3 separate regions of the Homo sapiens genome follow, and all the other regions are reported to be linked to region 1. Evidence: microRNA targets listed by miRTarBase, many of them from high-throughput screens and not tested one by one. Region 1 holds a microRNA gene; each other region holds the end of a gene's coding sequence. Distances are from middle to middle.

Evidence for each region. The annotated mature microRNA hsa-miR-4793-3p reads UCUGCACUGUGAGUUGGCUGGCU and lies in region 1 at 1,745-1,767, opposite strand. An mRNA with a match to its seed (bases 2 to 7 or 8) in the 3' UTR can be bound and repressed. Matches are read on the target gene's strand: a 7mer-m8 pairs with bases 2 to 8, a 7mer-A1 pairs with bases 2 to 7 and ends in A, and an 8mer does both.
Region 2: the mRNA of PGM3 is a reported target of hsa-miR-4793-3p. Seed matches in the 3' UTR shown: 7mer-A1 at 1,947-1,953 and 7mer-m8 at 352-358.
Region 3: the mRNA of EIF5A2 is a reported target of hsa-miR-4793-3p. Seed matches in the 3' UTR shown: 7mer-m8 at 1,568-1,574.

Annotation. Positions count from the first base shown.
Region 1 is chr3:48,642,457-48,646,605 of GRCh38, forward strand. It overlaps MIR4793 (microRNA 4793), which reads right to left and starts at 1,824; the gene lies at 1,738-1,824. It overlaps CELSR3 (cadherin EGF LAG seven-pass G-type receptor 3), which reads right to left. Exons shown (of 35, transcript NM_001407.3): 22 at 3,634-3,801; 23 at 3,286-3,412; 24 at 2,987-3,193; 25 at 2,579-2,753; 26 at 2,260-2,372; 27 at 1,760-1,839; 28 at 1,098-1,221; 29 at 511-627; 30 at 280-428; 31 at 1-11.
Region 2 is chr6:83,165,983-83,169,982 of GRCh38, forward strand. PGM3 (phosphoglucomutase 3) reads right to left here. Exons shown (of 13, transcript NM_015599.3): 13 at 1-3,341. The coding sequence ends at 3,252. It overlaps DOP1A (DOP1 leucine zipper like protein A), which reads left to right. Exons shown (of 39, transcript NM_015018.4): 39 at 1,880-2,489. The coding sequence ends at 2,185. Among named protein-coding and RNA genes, the nearest start is that of PGM3, 25 kb to the right of the region's middle.
Region 3 is chr3:170,889,964-170,893,963 of GRCh38, reverse strand. It overlaps EIF5A2 (eukaryotic translation initiation factor 5A2), which reads left to right. Exons shown (of 5, transcript NM_020390.6): 5 at 545-4,000. The coding sequence ends at 604. Among named protein-coding and RNA genes, the nearest start is that of EIF5A2, 17 kb to the left of the region's middle.

The sequences.
Region 1 (4,149 bases):
GGACATTGTCCCTGGAAAAGCAGGAGCCCCCCCACCATGAAAGAGGGATGTGATGGGGTGCCTTGGAGGCTGGAGTGTCTTTGAGTGCACAGCCAGCTGCGGGTGGAATGGCATCCCTGGGTGTGTGTGGTGGGAAGCATTTAGGGCAGAGGCAGAAGCAGGGCCCCAGATGGCCAAGATGGGTGGAGCCACCCGCCCTAGGACCTGGTCAGCCAAGCCCTGGTAAGGTGGGGCTGGACTAAGCTGAGTGTTCCCTCACAAGGAGGCTCTTCCTCTCACCTGAGGTAGCTGCGGCCCCGCTGGCTGTCCTGGTCCTGGGTCCGGCCGGAGCGGGCACTGCTCACAGAGGAGACGGTGGAGGCGCCCAGAGTGATGCGGATGAGGCCACTCTCCTCAAAGAGAGCCGTGTTGTTGTAGGCCCCAGGTCCCTGGGGGTGGTAGGGACAGAGTGTGAGCTAACCCTGAAGCAGCCTAAAACTCTGGCTTCTCAGGGCCCCCATCCCGACTCACCAGCCCAGGTGCTGGCCTTGCCTCCTCAGGCGCTGCCTTCCTGCCCAGACAGGCTGGCATCCAGGCAGCCCGAGCATCTGCATTTAGGACACAGAAGAGCAGCAGCACCGCCAGGCCCTGTGGGTCAGCGAGGGTCAAAGCAGAGTCGGCAGGGATCAATCAGGGACCAGTATAAGTCACTGTGGGTCAGCAATGGGGTCAGTCACTGTAGGCTAGTGTGGGTCAGTGAGGAGCCCATGCGGGACTCAGTAAGGGAGTTGGGGAAGGTCAGCAGGGGAGAGGATGGAGCAGCAGGAGTGGCTGGAGTCTGTAAGGTCGGTGTGGATCAGCAAGGGGTCGGGAGCCTTGGTGTTGGTGAAGGTCGATCCAAGATCAGCACTCAGTCTGGGATCAGTGCCTAAGTTAGAGTCAGCTCCAGGCCTGGGGGCAGCAGCTAGGGCCAGTGTCTGGTCTGGGGTAGTACCCAGCCTGGCAAAGTTATCCAGTAAGAGTCAGCTCCAGGCCTAGGGTCAACGTCTGCCTAGGGATGGCCCCAGCCTACTGAAGGCCCACCTGGTTCTGGGGCAAGGGAGGGGCACCAGAGTCACCTGGAGGCCGCAGAGTCCAGCATGGAGGTAGTGGAAGGCTAGGATGCTGTGGTTGACTGCCAGGAGCCCAAAGAGCCAGGAGGCACTGACCAGCAGAAGCAGCAGGAAGGAGCTGCGAAGGGTCCTGCTGTGGGGACATGGGAAGACACAGGAGGACATGCAAGGCTCATGTAGGACTCATGCAGGGAACACGGGAGGACACACAGGGGCCACACACGAAACGTGAAAAAAAGGAACTCACACGGGAACATGGAGGTCTCTGGAGGACACTGGGGGAGATGGGAGGTCCCACAAAGAAACAGGAGAGCAGTCAAAGAGCCATGAGGACACGTGGGGAAAACACAGGGGTATGGGAGCCACAAGGGAGGGCACGGAAGACAGGTGGGAACACACAGGGCAGGGGGCAAAGTGAGCCACCCAGGCCATGGGAGACTCTGGGGGGACCCAGAGGACAAGGAGAGACAGCAGGGCAGAAGCACATGTGGGGCTACAGTATAGCGAGGGCGCCAGAGAGGGACCACAGGTCAGGGCAGGTGTGACTTCATTCCTTCATCTAGAACTTGGAGCCCAACCTGCACCAGGGAAGATCTGGGGGCCCCAGACCCCACCCAGGAGGGACCTGCCATCCTGAGAAGCCCCCTTCCTCCAGCCAGCCAACTCACAGTGCAGAGGTCTTCTTGGCCTCCCTCTGCCCTGTGGAGCAGGATGTGCGGGCAGCGAGGAGAAACATGGTCCCGTTCATCTGGACCCACGGCCAGACATGTGGGGCCGGGCAGGGCAGAGAGAGAGAGAGAGAGAGAGGCAATGAGAGACAGAGAGAGACTAAGATTCACGGAGAGAGGCAGAACCAGTGAGAAATTCACACATATACACACACACCAAAGGAGCTTAGCATCACAGAAAAAGAAATTGGGAACCAGAGAGGGACTGAGAGAGAGAAGCAGAGACAGAGGCAGGGACAGGCAACTGAATCTCTGACCCCGCGCCCCCATCTCCATGCCAGTTGAATGGGGGTGGCTACTGACCAGAGGACAGAAAAAATGAAGGCCGAGCCCAGGAAGCCTGCAGAATGCCACCTGACCGCCCTCAGCTGAGTCCACTGCACCTCCTCCCCCAATGAGGGAGGGAAGTACAGAGGGGGCACCAAGTCCAGGGCACTCACCACTATGACCAGGACAACAGGGCCAGCAAAGCTCCAGATGAGGGGCTCGTGGACTGAGATCCAGCAGAAGTCAGGGTTCCCATAGCCCTCAGGGTCCAGGCCCACAGCAAGGCCTTGGGAAGAGAAAGGGTAGGACTGAGGGTGTGTGTTCCAGAGCTGCTGACCAGCCCATGTATGGGAGAAAGCATGGGTGAGGGCAGAGCAGCAACCCCATGAATAGATGGCTTGGGGTTTGAGGTTGGGGGTCATGAGCAGGAGTGGGGACAGGGTCAGGGGTCAGGCCATGTGATGGTTGGAGGTTGGGGGTCACAGCCCTCACCCAGCAGCACAGCAGGGACGCCCCAGCCCAGGGCATGGTAGAAGCGCATGGCGCCGCGGTCCACGTTGCGTGGCTCAACCTGCATGCGGTAGAGGTGCAGCCCCTGCACGAAGAGCCACGCGAAGGTGCTGAGGAAGAAGTAGTGCAGGAGGATGGCGACTGCAGTGCACACCAGCTGAGGGCAGGGGGGCGTGTCAGGACCTCTCCTGCCTCACCCACCTCTGACCCCTACCCCAGGCATCTGCTTCCCACCTCTCACCCCTAAACCACAATATCTTACCCCAGCATCCTGCTGAAAACCCTGGCCCCAACCTGAGCATCCCTGACCTCTGACCCTGAGTTTTGGCCCCAGGCCTCCTGGGCCAGTAGGGTCATCAGGACACAAGTTCCCTGGCCCTGATCCTGCACCTGATTGTGGGTCCTGTGAATCCCCAGCAGGAAGAGGAGCTCTGCCACCCCCAGGGCGGCTGCCACATTGGCATGGATCCCACGCACATTGGACTTGAGGCTGCGCAGGCTCAGCAGGATGGCTGCAGTCAGCACCAGCGCAGCCACAGACACAGCCACGACCACGTGGGTGAACACAGCCAGCAGCTCCAGGTCGCCCTCCAGCCTCTACAGAGACAGGGATGGTTGATGGGTTGTTGGGCAGAATCCCCGTGTCCCTTTGACCCCCCACTTCCTTGGGACACTGAACACAGCCCCACCTCACGGGGAGAGGCATCCATGAGGACCCCAAAGGTCCCTGTCCGGCTGCAGCGACACCGTGCGTGGGACCCATTCCTGTGCACCAGCTCGCAGTCCCGTGCTGTCCACACACCATGCTGCTCCGCCCTGCAGCCACAGGGCAGTTAGACACAACTGTGACCCAGTGTCAGGCAGGGGTTTGTGAGAGATCATGGGAAGGGCTGAGGGTGCCTGGAGTTGGGGTACAGCATTCCTCATGGTCCGGGTTGCACAACAGCACTAGTGGGGGCCCCAGGGGAAGGCTGGGACTATTAGTTGGCCTCCCAAGGGCTAACGGGACCAAGGGTTTCCAGAATGGGGGTCCTCACAGGCCAGGTGGGTCCCACTGCACACAGATCGCCTTGCTCCGATTCGCTGTCTGTAGCAGGCGAAACTCTAGGCTGATGGGGGACTCCAGGATTCCCCTTAGGAAGTTGCGTCCGTGGAACACAGCCACGCTGACCACCGGGGAGTTCATGACGGGGTTCTGAGGAAGCCTGGGGAGACACCCATCTGGGCTTACGCACTGCTGACCTCCCCATGCTCAGCCTGCTTGCCTCACCCCGTCTTCATGCCACTCGCCAGGGCTGACCCAGGGTCTGGGATGTCCCCAGAGTGGAAGCTGTTTCTAAGAATCCCTCCAGCTTCTGCTGGGCTGCTGAGGGGCTGAGCAGCTCCAGGGGACCTGCAACTGTTTGCCTCTGATTGCCCTCCCTCCTACCCCCATCAGTCAGCCTGTCCTTGTCTGTCTCTGTCAGCCCTTTGGTCTGTCTGTACCTGGCTCATGGATCCCTCCTGTGTGTGGCTCTGTGTCTGTCAGCCTGTGGCTCTGTCACTCTGCACAA
Region 2 (4,000 bases), not on the chromosome of region 1:
GGCTTTGGGAAGTGCTTTGGAGCTTCTTTCAGTCCAGCCACTGAGCTGGTCATCGCCAGTTGTCGTATAAAATCCACCTTTTGGCACACATCACAATCCGATAGAGAAATGATTCATTATTGTTGCATAGAATAGAGAAAATGACACTTCAAAACAACGAATTTTTTTATTTTTCACTCAGCTCATGAGGCACCCATTTATTGAGCTTTTTCACCTTTTCAATTTGCTTCAAATGCCGAACGACCATAAAATGGTCAACATTGAGTTCTTGGGCAGCTCTCTTATAGTTGTAAGAGGATCAGCTTCGATGATGTTCTCAATTGGTCATTATCAATTTCCGATGACTGGCCACTGCACTCCTCATCTTCAAGGCTCTAGTCTCCTTTGCAAAACTTCTTGAGCCATCACGGCACTGTATGTTCATTAGCAGTTCCTGGGCCAAATGCATTGTTGATGTTGTGTGTTGTCTCTGCTGCTTTATAACCTATTTTGAACTCAGAAAATCGCTAAATTTGATTTTTGTCTAACATCATTTCCATAGTCTAAAATAAATATAAACAGCAATAAGTCATTAGCAAAAAAAAAGTGAGAAATATGCTTAAAATGATGTATAACATAACCACATTTATTTAAGAATGTACTCCAATATAAAACGGCAAATTTCAACAATGCAAAAACCGCAATTACGTTTGCACCAACCTAATATTTTCCTTTTTCAGGATTTTACTTTAAAATAAGCAATAAGCTTGAGAGCACATAGAAGAAAATAAGCTGGATTTTGCATCTGCTTGACCCACTAGGAAACTAGTGATATTAAATTATTAGGTAAACAATGAAAGTTTCTGAGCAACATCTGATCTTAGAAGGCAAACTCCATTTGTTAATATGACAGATTGTAATTCTGCTTCCTAAGTCTTCATGATTTCTTCCTTCTGTCTAGTTCATTGCTTATTTTCATTCTTTAGTGTGGAATTGTATCTGTGATTCTGCCCAAGTTCAACCAACCTGTTCTCTCTTATCTTTCTCTAGACAGAATGATGTCTGTAGCTGTGTTTGTGTAATTCAGGTGGCTTCTCAAACTAGCCTCTTAATACCCAAATTATTAGTCTTTATATTTAGTTGACAGAGTTTTCACATACCTTCTCATTTGACTTCTCTACTAAAAGGTAGTTTTAGACTGTCCCATTTTATAAGTGAGGAACCTTTGTATATCCTGCCCAAGGGTGCCGTAAGTATGGCAGAGCCAGCACACTAACTCAATTCCTTTGACTCCAGGTCCAGCTTTCCTCCCTATGTTGTTTAGCACAACCCAGAAGGAGACAGCAGTGTCTCCTGAGGGATCCCTTCCTTTCTCTGTGATGCAGTACTGACAGTAATTATTCACTTTGGACACTGCTACCATCATGGCAAATTTAGGCCATTTAGATAAAAGGGAATTAACTAATTATAATAAAAGGGGATATATTATGAAATGTATAAAGCACTTTGTTCCTTTTTTCTGTAGTAATTTTGTGACCTAGTCCTTGGTTACAGTAGTGAGGGTTCAGAAACCTGGGAGCTTTTTGAGTAAATACAAAGCACAACATAAAACTTTTATGTTTGACTCTATTCCTGTTCAAAGCTATTTCTGTTAACTAAGCTTATCTGCGCATTCTAGTTGGGAACTATTACTACAATGTTAGACTGCTCCATGTAAAACTAATAAATGGCAGTAAAAGGTCTCAGAAGCACCAAGGGTTTTGATCAGGTCAGGAGTTAGAAACTTAATGTCATTTGTATTCATTTCTTGACCAATTGCCAAAGTTTATATATTTTTAATTTTTCTAACATACCACATTGTCTGTTGTATTAATACCAGTTCACTTTTTGTTTTCTGCAGAAAAATCCAGAGGAAGACAACTCAGGGAGAACATTGGGTTGGGAGCCAGGGCACTTGCTGCTCACCATCTGCACCGTGCGCAGTATGGAGCAGCTCCTGCCGTTCTTCAATGTGCTCAGTCAAGTCTTCAACAGCAAAGTCACAAGCCGATGTGGAGGACACTCAGGGAGTCCTATCCTCTACTCAAATGCCTTCCCTAATAAGGACATGAAACTGGAGAACCACAAACCATGTTCCAGCAAAGCCAGGCAAAAAATAGAAGAGATGGTAGAAAAAGATTTTCTGGAAGGGATGATAAAAACTTGAGCACCATTGCTGGTTCCATTTAGCTTACATGTAAATGTAATTATTTAAAACACACACACTGCTCTGCGTTGTATAGTTTTTCCTTTTTTGTATGTAACAGAACACATTTCAGATTGTATTTAATTTAAATATTTGTATATAAGAGCAAATGTCTGAATGTGGCCTGAATCAAGTTTAAATATTGTTGGCTCATACTGATTATGGTGCCTAAGAGAGCTATATATATACACATGTAAAGTCCATTGTTTTTATTGTCCTGAGTTGTCTTAAACCTGCAAAATATACACTACCCATTTTTTTTTTCCATTGGTTTCAGACTTGGTTCAATTAAGATTGGTTGGGGATTTTTCTCTTTTCCTTATTAACCATGTTCTGGTATCAGAATGGTGTTCCTTCTCCATCAGAGGCTGGGAAACGTATTATAATTAGTTTTTCTCCCACATACCTTCACCAAGAGCAGTGAAGAATAACTGAAGGCTGGACCATGCATCCTTAAAAGTATTGCATGAGCATCTCCACCTCAGTATGGAAGAGGGATGGACAACCCCCTATTCATACCTCTGAGTTCCTGATGGCATTAGTCATATAGGTAAGTCATCTAATAATCTTTCTTAAGACTCTGCAATGGAAAAACTGGTTGTATAAAGTCTTCTCTGCCCTCTCCATTTGTATCAGCAATGGGGAATGCTGCAAAACATCATCTTGCTCATGTGATGGTGATGGCAAAGATATCACAAGGAGTTGGTAATAAGATTTAATTTTCCAGTAGCCTGCATGAATTGTTCCCCACATAAAACTGTACAGTTAGTGACTGAATTGTATACTTAAGTCCCAGTATTTTACATTAGTGAGACTGAAATTAGAGGTAAATTTCTTTAACAAGTGTAAGGCTTACCTATTTATAAAGAATTATTCTGTTAGTGTTTAAGAAAAACAGATCTAGAGACAATCCAGTAGGCTGCATTGTAAACATTATGATTATAAATCTCTTAGTACTGCCATTATTATTGACAGTTTTGTAAAGACTTGTAAAAAGTCCAGTTTCTCAGGAATATGAAAATTATCTTCAGAAACCTGGTTGGGGCCTTTCTCCAATTCCTCCAGCCAGCTGAAATACTGCCAAGCTCACTTCATGTGCAAGGTGATCTGCACTTTCCTGCAAATTACATTAAAAGAGATTAGATGAGAAAGACATAGCATGTGTCTAACATGGGCAAGACCATGTTACTTGGAACTCTGGGGAAGAGAGGGGTGATTCTTGATTTTGTTTCACTAACAAATTCTAATGAAAACCTTTTTTCATCTTTCAGTAACAAATTCCAAAGCCCTTAAATAAACGGAAAACAGACCAAATTCTTCTAAATAAGGTAAGTTTTTAATCAATTCAGATTATAAAAATAGCTATCATTCCACAACTGAAAAAATTCAATAAAACTTTAATCCACAATTGGCCTAACAGTAAGTAAGTACTAATGCCTCTGTTGCCATCTCCTCATCCATCATGGATATTCATTAGACTCTGAGATGGCTTAAGCTTCTGCAGGAAAGCTGCCAAATGTCTCCTCCTGATTCCCTATTCAGCGCACTCACTGTACTTTGCCCTGGCTTTGCACACACTTTAAGGAGTATGTGAAGAGGCCAAATAATAAAAATCCAGACCACAAGTCTTGACCCCTGTCAGGGAAACAGGCACAGAGTAAGGCTGTCATTTAAAGGAAATATTTTGAAAAACAAATCAAGAGTCCAGAATGCTATCAGTTGACTTAGAAATGAACTACAAAGCTGGTTGTTTTCATGTCACAAGAGTATATTTTT
Region 3 (4,000 bases), 120 Mb from region 1:
CGCGTCCCAGGTTCAAGCGATTCTCCCCTCAGCCTCCTGAGTAGCTGGGATTGCAGGCGCGTGCCACCACATCTGGCTAATTTTTGTATTTTTAGTAAAGATTGGGTTTCAGCATGTTGGCCAAGCTGGTTTTGAACTCCTGACCTCAGGTGATCCCCCAACCTTGGCCTCCCAAAAGTGCTGGGATTACAGGCCTGAGCAAGGCGCCCAGCCCTGAGCTATTCTTACAGGTAAGAAATGATGCTAGTGGAATGTTAAAGAGTGAAGGAGATTTACTGTCTTCGTTACAACTTTCAGAAATGTAACGGGTAGTAAGTGTTCAAACATTTATAGTTATTTTTCCTGTTCCCTGGAAGTTGTCTTACAAACCACTCTGAGAAATTCTGCTTTAGAAAACTGTAAAGAAAGTAGCTTGTTTTGGAATACCCCTTTCAGAAGTCCATATGTACAAAATATCCACAAATATACAATATATGAGGAACTAATTATATCTTCTATATGTATTGTCTTCTGAATAACGTTTTGCCTGCTTTTTTCCTTCTAGGTGTCTGTCATGTGTGCAATGAGTGAAGAATATGCTGTAGCCATAAAACCCTGCAAATAAACGGAAACATCAGGCATGAACACTGTTTATGTCTGAATCAACTGCAGATCTAATTTGGTTCTAAGTTGTCACCAAAGCTATAGCCTTCATAAGCAACCTCATTTCTTTTTTTAATTGTTTTCAGATTGTGCTGGGTTAGTTTTGCAAGCAATTGATAATTTTTAAAAAATTATCAATATGTATAATTTTTTTTGAATTTTGTAGATATGTTTCCTATAATATTCCTGTGGTTTTCAGTATGTCAGTCCAAGAAACAAACAAGATAGCTTCAGCAGATGTGATTTGTCTGAGCAAATCATTCCTGTGTTTTAGTTAGATGATAAACCAGGGTTTTAAATCAAACAATGTAGCATAAAGTGGTATTGAAGTACCATATTTAAGTTGAACTGCTCTGCATTAATTACAGATTTAATATAAAATGAACTGATTATATATTGGAATTGTTGCACTTTCAGCCTGTGTAGGGCAAACACAAATCCTTAAACAAAAATCATGTTATCAAAAACTGTCAGTTATTTTGGTGGCCACATGCAACCATGTGATTACTTTGGTCATACTATTTACCAAATTGTTGGCAAACTTGATGTAACCTTATATGGTGGTTTTAGTCCCTTCTTATGGTTGGCAGAAGGGCACTGAACTGTTGGGTGAAAGTTAGTTAGCAAGTAAGATTATAAGGAAGACACAAAAGACAGTGGCAAAGAGGGTTGATTAAATCTATAAGTTTTTATGTGAGGACTTTGTAAGTCAGCATAAAAATGAAAAGTTGTTTCTCAGTTGTTTTTGCTTTTAACTTTGCCCCCAACGTTTAAAGGGAGTGATCTGCTTTACATGATACTATGCAATGCTTGTTTTCCAACTATGTTGAATAAATAGTAATATTTATCAGTAAATACTCCTTTCCAACTTCCTTTTTTTTTTTTTTTTTTTTGAGACTGAGTCTCACTCCATCAGCCAGGCTGGAGTGCAGTGGTGCAATCTCGGCTCACTGCAACCTCTGCCTCCCGAGTTCAAGCAATTCTCCTGCCTCAGCCTCCCAAGTAGCTGGGACTACAGGTGCATGCCACCACGCCCAGCTACTTTTTTGTGTATTTTAGTAGAGATGGGGTTTCACCATGTTGTCTAGGCTGGTCTTGAACTCCTGACCTCAGGTGATCCACCTGCCTCAGCCTCCCAAAGTGCTGGGATTACAGGCATGAGCCACCACACCCAGCCCCTTTCCAACCATTTCTAAGTAGATTTTTTGACATTAATGTATTTATTAAACAAAAACTGAGAATTCCTTAAATTGATTTGGAATTTTTGTTAATTTTATGTCCTTTTTTTCCTAAAGTGAATTAAAGTGAATCATGGAAGCAGCATTACTTTATATGAATATTATTATTTAAGTTAAGTTATTTTAAGTATATGCATTTTTTCTGATTGTTGTGTGACTTAATTCAGTTGCTGGTGTGAACTATAACTAGCAAATAATTCTATAAACTGAATTATTTTAAAAGGTATTTTAGGTGACACCACTGCATTTCTATTTCATCTTTTGAGTCATATGTATATTATTTCCAGAATTTTAGACATTATTACAGGGTTTGTGAGGACCTTTGACTCAGTGACAATCATCATATTGGAGCAAAACATAGAACAAAATCACTATCTCAGAAATACCTTAATTCTCTAAGACTGGCTCTTAGACCTCTCCCATCATGCCTTGACCTCTAAAAAGCCCTTTGTTCCTATCTTCTAAAGGAAAGTATATCATATATGATGATGTAACTGATCTAATCAGTGACTGGAAATAGCATTAGTAACAGAAGATCCCAAGTTTTAGTTGCTTAATTTGTACACACTTTTAAATATTGTCTTAGCCTCGGCAAACCAATTTGGGGAAGAAGCAAGATACTTTAAGAGAAATACAAAGGAAATTTCTAAAGCACAAGAAATAGTGAGGTAGTAGTTAGTCGTCTTTCCTACAACATTTTAGCTTTTGCCCATCTAAAGCACAATTAAAATTAGGCTACATTCTTTCCAGTATTCTATTTAAGTACCTACTACATACTGCTCTAGTTTCTTAGTACTCTGTAATGTGTATCTTAATTGCTACTGGTTGGCATTGTAACTCATAGGAATTCCAGAAAATTATTAATCCGTGCTGCTTGCAGTTCATTCATATGGCCCCTCTTAACCATGCTGGTGTTATGATTCAGTATTAACTCTCAATTAGCATGCCCCTGTTCTTCCTAACTTGTAAAATTTCACATAAATATATTTTCAATTGTGTACAAATTAAGGGTGTACAAATTATAATAATGCATCTCTATCTTCATACTTTGAATGGCAAACGCTATTTATGCATAAATATTTTCATTTTAAGTAATATATGAAGTGTAAATACTCGATATATAAGTATAGATTTTAAAGATATGGGACTTTATTTTCACATAAGTCAATAGATGTTTCTCTAGAACAAAATATTTAGTAAAGCTTTATAAATTATATTAAAAGGAAGCGGGGAACATGTATTTTTTAACATAGAACAGAAGTGACTTCATTCTTTTTAGACATCAGAAATGTTAAAGTTGATTCCCAATATTTGTTGTACTTTTTTGTAGCAAATGTTAAAAATCACGAGTTACCATGTATAGAATGTGGACTGTCATGTTGATATCATTGTACAGTGATAAGCCATTTTTATCTGTATACATTTCACCAATTTATTAACAGGTTGAATATTTGTTTCTTTTTAGAACATTTTATTTATACTGTGAAGACTTTGTTATACCTTATTTGCTACAACATAGATCATATCATTGCTACTTTGACTTAGCATTTGCATCATAAACATAATTATGATGTTTTTTTCATGCTCCCTTCCAGGGGCTCAGTCACTTGAAGAAACTGTTGCTAACCAAGCTCTTGACTCTGTTTCCCTTAATGATACAAGTCTCTGTACCAGCGCTTTATGTTAATTACCAAAACTCTCCTGCATCAGAGCATGATATCTATAATAGGAGATACTGCAATAAAATGATTAGGCTGTAAAATTTGGAGACACAATTTTTCATTACAATGCAATTTGCATGTGCACATGTGCGCACATAACTTTATATGTTAGTTCTTTTTTCCAAACTCCCAACTCTTAAAAGTATTGTAGTCTGTTGGTGCCTCAACTGTTGGTAACTTTTTTTTTTTAAATTTACAACTTTCCACAACTTGTTTTTGTACTTTAAGGTTTCTCAATTAGAATATTTCTAGTTGAGCTGTAATTTGAATGCATTGTTCTCAGGGCTATTTGTGCTAAAAGCTGAAATTTCATTATTTTAAAGCTAATTGCCTGAAAATATATTGGCAGAATTTTCCCAAATTGTAATAACTGTGATACATGCATATAAAAAAATCCTT